Linked DNA regions of Homo sapiens: regions 1 and 2 are each linked to region 3. Evidence: fine-mapped expression QTL. A gene starts in region 3. Each other region holds a variant in brackets. All regions are shown on one strand. Distances are between the middles of the regions. Region 1 overlaps LOC105370029 (a long non-coding RNA gene). Region 2 overlaps CABP1 (calcium binding protein 1). Region 3 holds the start of UNC119B (unc-119 lipid binding chaperone B).

What was found. PIP is the estimated chance that this variant, and not a neighbour inherited with it, causes the effect.
Region 1: its variant is fine-mapped to the expression of UNC119B in tibial nerve (GTEx, PIP 0.92).
Region 2: its variant is fine-mapped to the expression of UNC119B in tibial nerve (GTEx, PIP above 0.99).

Annotation. Positions count from the first base shown.
Region 1 is chr12:120,683,563-120,686,235 of GRCh38, reverse strand. The region is part of intron 1 of LOC105370029 (a long non-coding RNA gene); the gene reads left to right. Among named protein-coding and RNA genes, the nearest start is that of MLEC, 2.2 kb to the left of the region's middle. RefSeq lists a silencer at 1,083-1,172. The variant G/A (reference allele first, on the strand shown) is at 1,363.
Region 2 is chr12:120,666,309-120,668,951 of GRCh38, reverse strand. CABP1 (calcium binding protein 1) reads right to left here. Exons shown (of 6, transcript NM_001033677.2): 6 at 1,628-2,077. The coding sequence ends at 2,052. Among named protein-coding and RNA genes, the nearest start is that of MLEC, 20 kb to the left of the region's middle. RefSeq lists enhancers at 1,201-1,721, 1,722-2,243. The variant C/A (reference allele first, on the strand shown) is at 1,227.
Region 3 is chr12:120,709,329-120,712,001 of GRCh38, reverse strand. UNC119B (unc-119 lipid binding chaperone B) reads right to left here and starts at 1,544. Exons shown (of 5, transcript NM_001080533.3): 1 at 1,284-1,544. The coding sequence starts at 1,527. It overlaps LOC124903036 (a long non-coding RNA gene), which reads left to right and starts at 1,496. Exons shown (of 2, transcript XR_007063491.1): 1 at 1,496-1,565; 2 at 1,728-2,069. RefSeq lists silencers at 1,235-1,504, 1,595-1,654 and an enhancer at 785-1,627.

The DNA.
Region 1 (2,673 bases), 26 kb after region 3:
TCAAACTCCCATTTTTCCGATGGGGAAACTGAGGCATAGAAAGGGACTGAATTTTGCCAAAGGGTCGCACCGCAAGTGTAGGGCAGAGTCAAGGCAAAAACAAAAAAAACAAAAAAACGCTTATGCATTTTCCATAAATACTGGTCGATTTAGAAATTCTCCCTAAAAGGAAAAAAATGTATCAAGTCCCTGCTACCAGGGTTGTCAGATTTGGCAGATAAAATAGGAGAAGCCCAGTTATATTTGAATTTCAGATAAGCAAATGGGACCCACTTATACTAAAAAAAAAAATGCATTGTTTATTAAAATTTAAACAACTGGACTTCTTGTATTTTATCTACCAATCCTACCTACTACTTAGGCAATGAGCTTTGTGCTACATGAACAAAAAACACACCTGGGGTCCCGCATGAGAATCATAGACTTTGCACAACCCATAATGAAATTAATTGTTTAGTTAGAACAGTGGTAAGTGCTATACGGGAACAAAACAGGGTGCCAAAATAGAGACTATCAGTGGTGGATCTAAATGCACCCAAATTCCTTCCCAGGCCCCAAATTCAGACCCCATGGGGGTAACTTTTGGAAGTGTTCCCTCCCGGTCTCACTTTCCCCCCTATTTTGCAAGCATCTGGCCTTACTTCCTCCCATAGACATGTTTCCTGTCCAAGGTGTTTCTTTTTTTTTTTTTTTCTGTCTTTTTTGGAGACAGAGTCTTGCTCTGTCGCCAGGCTGGAGTGCAGTGGTGCAATCTCGGCTCATGGCAACCTCCACCTCCCGGGTTTAGGCGATTCTGCTGCCTCAGCCTCCTGAGTAGCTGGGACTACAGGCGCGCGCCACCACACCCAACTAGTTTTTTTTATTTTTATTAGAGACCGAGTTTCACCATGTTGGCCAGGATGATCTCGATCTCCTGACCTCGGGGTCCGCGGCCTCCCAAAGTGCTGGGATTACAGGTGTGAGCCACCACACCTGGCCTCTTGGGGTTTCTAATTCTACTATTCTCTCTCTCAAACTGTCATCTTTTAAGGATCTTGACAACTCAGAGGCTTCAGTTACCCTCAAAGGAGGGGTGTGGTGCAAATGGGGAACAGAAACACAAGTAGTGGTGATGGGGCTTCCTCCCTCCAGGCAGTTGGCCTGCAGAGCCCACGTACCACTCAGGTATTGCACTGCCACCAGGCGCTCATGTTTATTTTATCCTCAAGGCAGTCTAGTCCAGGAGAAACAATCACAAAAACGGATTAAATTTTGGGGGAGGCCTCTAAAGGCTTTCTCTCAGTCCTTCGTGTCTTTGGTCACCCCAGAGGGTGAAGAAGATACCCGGCTGGCTCCTGTTATTGAGCCCTTCAGATACCATTC[G/A]TGGTTGGGCCATCTGTGTACCAAGGAGCTTGGCTCCCTTTCTGAGATCCAGCTGCTCATGAATTAGGCTGTCTTTTCAGTAAAACGTAAAGTCTGAGACCCTGGAGGCAGGGTATGGGATCCGAGCGTGGGATCTAAGACAGGCTGCCTGCATCCCATGCCTAGTCCCATTTACCCACTGTGTGGCCTTGGGCAAGTGATGTACTTCGCTGAGTTTCAGTTTCCTCAGTTGTGAAATAGAGATACAGTCATGAGTCACTTAATGACAGGGATGCGTTCTGAAAAATGCATCATTAAGCGATTTTGTCATTGTGCAGAGATCACAGAGTGTACTTACACAAACCTAGATGGGGATAGCCTGCTATACACCTAGGCTATATGGTATAGCTGATAGCTCCTACACTACAAACCTCTACAGCATGTTACCTTACTGAATACTGTAGACAGTTGAACACAATGGTAAGTATTTGCGTATCTAAACACAGATACAGTATAAACACAGTATTGGCCAGCCTAGTGGCCCATGCCTGTAATTCCAGCACTTTGGGAGGCTGAGGTGGGTGGATCACTTGAGGCCAGGAGTTCGAGACCAGCCTGACCAACATGGAAAAACCCTGTCTCTACTAAAAATACAAAAATTAGCTGGGCATGGTGGGGCGCACCTGTAATCCCAGCTATTCGGAAGGCCGAGGCAGGAGACTCGCTTGAACCCGGGAGGCAGAGGTTACAGTGAGCCGAGATCGCACCACTGCACTCTAGCCTGGGTGACAGAGTGAGATCCAGTCTCAAAAAAAAAATATATATATATATACACACACACACACACACACACACACACACAAAATTTTATTTATTTATTTATTTATTTATTTATTGTGGAGACAGATTCTCACTATGTTGTCCAGGCTGGCCTCTAACTTGTGGCCTCAAGCGGTCCTCCCGCCTTGACCTTCCAAAGTCCTGGGATTACAGGCCTAAGCCCCTGCACCCAGCCAATATTATAATCTCACGGGACCATCATCGTGTATGTGGTTCGTCATTGGCTGAAATGTTATGTAGCACATGACTGGAATACTTTATTTTACTTATTTATTTTTTGAGACAGAGTCTCACTCTTGCCCAGGCTGGAGTGCAGTGGCATGATCTCGGCTCACTTCAGCCTCTGCCTCCTGGGTTCAAGCAATTCTCGTGTCTCAGCCTCCCAGATAGCTGGGATTATAGGCATGCACCACCATGCCTGGCTAATTTTTGTATTTTTAGTAGAGACAGGGTTTCTCCATGTTGGCCAGCCTGGTCTTGAACTTCTGGCCT
Region 2 (2,643 bases), 43 kb after region 3:
CCCCAGACATGGGATCAGAATCACTGCGGGGGTGGCCCAGATCTGGGCTTCACAAATGCTCCAGGCAATTCTGCTGTATGCTAAGATTTGGGAACCAATGGCTTGAGGTACACCGGCCACCCCACACACCTGCCCAAGTACGCTCCAAGCCTGTCTAAGACTCGACAACTTCTACCCACAGATTTCTCCTTTGGGCTGCTTTAAGACTTCACTTATAGAAACGAATTACAATGGGTCTTTTCAATTGCATGATTCCACTGCAGTCTGAATAGCAGTCCCTGGGGTGTGCCGTGTGGTGCAATGCCCTGAGGGCACTTGCTATGCACTGACCCCATCCTTTATCATCCCCACATTACACAGGAAGAAACTGAGCTTCAGAAAGGGGACGCGACTGGCCCTAAGTCACACAGCAAGCAAACCCTGGGCCTATTGGCTACACATCTTCCTCCCACTCAGCAGAGAGGATGGCAGCTATTTCTTTCTTTTTTTAGACGGAGTCTCGCTCCGTCACCCAGTGGCATGATCTCGGCCCACTGCAGCCTCCACCTCCTGGGTTCAAGCGATTCTCCTGAAGCTGGGACTCTAGGTGCATGCCACCACGCCCGGCTAATTTTTCTATTTTTGTAGAGACAGGCCACGTTGGTCAGGTTAGTCTTGAACTCCTGAACTCAGGTGATCCTCCCGCCTCAGCCTCCCCAGAGTGCTGGGATTACAGGCATGAGCCACGGCGCGCAGCCAGTGGCAGCTGTGTCTATATCTGTCTGTCCGCACACACTGGGACTTCCTCCAGAGCAAAACCCTTGACATCACTTCACTGGGCAAGCCTTTTCTGACCTCCCTACAGGAGGCCAGGCCTCCTTAGTATATCCTGCCGAAGGTCCCTATATTTTTCCTCAATAGCAGTATCACAATTTGTAATCCTATATGATGTGTTTCTCTCATGCCTGTCTCTCCAACCAGTATAAAAGTTCCAGAAAGTCAGAAGTGATACAGACTCTGCTGGATGCTTCTCTTCTTATAGAACCTGATTTTGTTTGGGGAAGCTGAGTACCCAGCTAAATAACTAACTACATTCTTCAGTCTCCCTTAGCAGTCCCAGGTTCTGGCCCACGGATGAGAATGGAAGTCACTGAGTACATAATAGGTACTCAATAAATGCATGTTGGCCAGGCATGGAGACTCACGCCTGGAATCCCAGCCCTTTGGGAGGCCAAGGCAGGCAGATC[C/A]CTTGAGATCAGGAGTTTGAGACCAGCCTGCCCAACATGTGAAACCCCATCTCTACTAAAAATACAAAAATTAGCCAGGCGTGGTGGCGGGCGCCTGTAATCCCAGCTACTCGGGAGGCTGAGGCAGGAGAATCGCTTGAACCTGGGAAGCAGAGGTTACAGTGAGCTGAGATCACGCCACTGCACTCCAGCCTGGGTGACGGAGCTAGACCCTGTCTCAAAACAGAAAACACAGGAAGGTCAAAAGAACCCTCATTTGACTTCTTCTCGAAATAAATAAATAAACAAACAAAAAATGCTGAATGCAAAAATGATCAGCAGGTTCTGGGCATGCAGTTGGTACTCAGGAAATGTGAGGGTCATCTAACCAGGCCCAAGGAGGAAAGACCATCACGGCTGTCTTGCTCTTGGAAATATTTTTATTGGTTCTGAGATAACAGGGCTGAGGCGAGCTGGGACGGGCGCAGAGCGAAGGTGGGAGGCTTTGCCCTGGGGCGGACATGCTGTGTGGGGTCTGCTGGCGGGCTCCCTGGCCCACCCAGCCAGCAGCAGCTGGGCACATGGCCCTTGGCGCCTGGCATGACCTCTGCCGGCTTGGCACGGTGGCCTCCTCGTCGGCGGGCGCCCCCGCTTTCCAGTTGCAGGAGTTAGTCTTTCACAGTGCGGAGGGGTGGGGGTCCGGGGTGGGCGCCTCCCCGGGGTGCAGGCAGGCCCCATCCGCCAGTACATCCTGGGCTCTCGGCGGCTACAGCGGGTGAGGCAAGCTCTAGCTCCTCTTAGCCCCGCCTTTGGGAGCTTGGCAGTCCTGGAGGGGCCCTCGCGGCCTCAGCGGGACATCATCCGGACAAACTCTAGAAGGGTAGAGGAGCAGCTGGGGAGCAAGCAGCAGCCAGAGGCCTCCCCAGGTTGCTGCCTTCAGACCCCACCCTGTTGCCACTGCCCCAACTCTGTGCTGGTCCCCCATCCATTCCGCCCTCTCCAATCCATGGACACAGCAGCCAGCGAGAGTGTTCTAATCTGCGGATCTGACCGCTGCGTAAACCTCCCACAGCTCTCCACTGGAAAAATCTCCAATATCCTGACACAGCCTCATGGCCCTCCCTGATCTGGCGCCAGCTGACATCTCCAGCCATATCTCTCAGGCTAACTCCCAACCTCTGTGCTCCAACTACACAGATCTTTTCAGCCCCTCAAGTGCAGCTGGCGCACTCTCTCTCTCACCTCTCAGCATTTTTTTTTTTTTTTTTTTTTTGAGATGGAGTCTTGCTCTGTCACCCAGGCTGGAGTGCGGTGATGCGATCTCAGCTCACTGAAGCCTCCACCTCCTGGGTTCAAGCGATTCTCCTGCCTCAGCCTCCCTAGTAGCTGGGATTACAGGTGTGCACTACCACGCTTGGCTAATTTTTGTACTTTTAGT
Region 3 (2,673 bases):
CTGGTTCAGAAGAAAAGAAGCTTTTTCACACTGTTTCAATAAAACTAACAAGAATGTCTAAAGATACGTTCAGGTCTGGTAAGGACAGTCTCAACCCAAACAGTATTGGGAAACGGGGGCATCCAAATATCTAGAATCAAATTAAAACTCTTTTAGGAAATGGGAATTCCCTTTCGCACAGGGTGGACCAAGGCCTACTCCCCCCAAATTTCCATCCCCAAATTACTAGAGCTGCAATCGGCAACCTGAGGTGCACCTGAACAGCCCTGGGCTGCCTGCTATAGCAGCTCAGCAGACACCATGGCAGCCTTCGATCCATCCAGGGAATGTTGCTGCTGCCACAGGGTTAGGAGACTGCACGCCAGGAGTGATGGGCAGGCCAAGATAGGCCTAACTAGGTGAGTGCACACTCCTGCAGGGAAAACAGCAGCAAGAGAAAAGACGTCAAGTCAGGGACTGGCTTGGCAGAGAACAGAAAAAGGGAGATCACCCAGGGCAGGGACTGGGCAACATTTTTCTTCCCACCCATCCTCCTATCAACGAAAAAGCTTAGGATGGTTGCCTTTTGTGCAGGAAACGCATTTCTGAAACTCTGAAATCATTCTTAATTCACGAGAATGTCAAAAGCAGGATTCACATGTCGGAGTCTGTACACAAACTGAAACTTTATTTTTGTTTTAATGTGGCACAGTTTTAAATGAGCAGGAAATGCCACGGCTATGTGTTTTGAGGAAGAACCCATCTGCACACTAAGGGGCAACGCTCCCGACCCAAAGAGGGAGGGAGGCCGGGCAGGCTGCAATGGGGGAGGGCTGCCATGGGGCCAGGGCGGAGGAAGCAGGTAAGGCTTCTGGCCTGCCAGAGGGCTGGGGGAGCCTGGCTGAGCGGGAACTTCACTGATGGCCGGGGGTTCCAGGCTGAGGGCCCAGGGGCCCATTTATTAGGGGACCTCGGCCCCCGGCCGGCTCAGGAGGATCCAGTTCAGCTGAACGGGGCCCTCTACCCAAACAGGTCCGGCAGAGCTGGGGAGCCGACCGGCCGAAGGGCATCCTAGCGTGGCCGGACTCACAGGAATGCGGTCCAGCCCAGGAGAGTCCTTCCCCACCAGAGCTACGTGAGCGTGGCGGGAGCAAAGCCCGGCCGGCGGGGCAGCGGGAAGCGCGGCCCGGCCGGCCGAGGGGGTCTGGCGGGGACCCCCGCGCTGGTCAAGTGGCCGGGTCCGCTGAAGGCTCCGGGAGCCGGGGCACGGCGCGAGGGGAGGGCGCGGCCCGCGCGGCACTCACTCTCGGTGACCCGGCTGAGGCGCAGGACGTGCTCGGGCCGGATGGTGTCCAGCGCCAGCAGCTCCTGCTCCGTGACCGCTGCCCCGACGCCGTCGTCGGCCGCGTGGTGGGGCGCCTGCCGCCGCGCCTTCAGGCGGTTCAGGACGCCGCCGCCCGCCTTCTTCTTCTCCTCCTTGCCAGCCACCAGCCCCCCGGGCCCAGCCGCCGACGCCGCGGCCGCAGCCTTCGGGTTAGACCCGCTCATCGCTCCGCCGCCAAGATGGCCGCCGCCTCCACAGCGCGGTAACTATGGAGAGCGGGGGCGGGGCCCGGGGCCCGGCGGGGAAGGGGCGGGGAGGGGGCGGGGCGGGGGCGGGGGCGGGCGCCCGGGGGGCTGTGGAATTCCCTTTCGCACAGGGTGGACCAAGGCCCACTCTCCCCAAACTTCCATCCCCAAATAACTAGAGCTGCCATCAGCAACCTGAGGTGCACATGAGCAGCCCTGGGCTGACTCCTATAGCAATTCAGCGGACGACACCATGGCAGCCTTCGATCCATTCAGGGAATGCTGCTGCTGCCACAGGGTTAGGAGACCGCAGGCCAGGAGTGATGGGCAGGCCAAGATAGGCCTAACTGGGTGACTGCACACTCCTGCGGGGCCCGGGGGGCGGTGCTTCGGCTACTGCCCCAACTTTGGTCCTGCCAGGTGGAGGGCCTAGGGGTGGCTGGAGCTTCAGCAACCCCACTCCCCATCAGACCCCCAAGATCCTCCACGATGTTTAAATACATATCTTACGGTCAAATGAATTTACGTCATATAAACTTTCCTCCTCCTCATCCTCCTCCTGGTCTGAAAGAGCACACAGAATCTTCCGTGCACCATCTCGGCATTCTCAATCCAAGAGTTCTGTCACCAGTCCCAACAGCACAATGGCAACTAATTCCCAGTAATCACACCAAGAAGAAGAATGGCCAGTGTTTACTGCGCACTTGCTATATGGCAGGACACTTGCTATAGGGCAGGCTCCTCACCTCACAACAACCCTGTGAGGTATTACTGTCTCCATTTTACAGATCAGGAAGCTCAAGTTCAGAGAAGTCAGGTAACATGTCCAAAGTCCCTCAAGCAGTAAGAGGAGGGAACAGGGATTTTAATCCAGGTCCATCTGACCCAAGGCCTGTTCTTCAACACTAAGCTATTAGTGGACAATGCATCTTGAGAAAATGTTTATTAATATATTTAGCATAGAAGGTAAGTTAAAGCAGTGTTTGTTTTGCAAAGGCAGTTTCAAGACAAACTTTCCAATGAGATTGCCATCCGTAAGCCCTACTGTGCCAGGCCCTGGGCTAGACATTGGGCTAGGCTACAGGAGATGTAAGAGTGAGGGCAGGGATTGGGTCTGCCTCACCC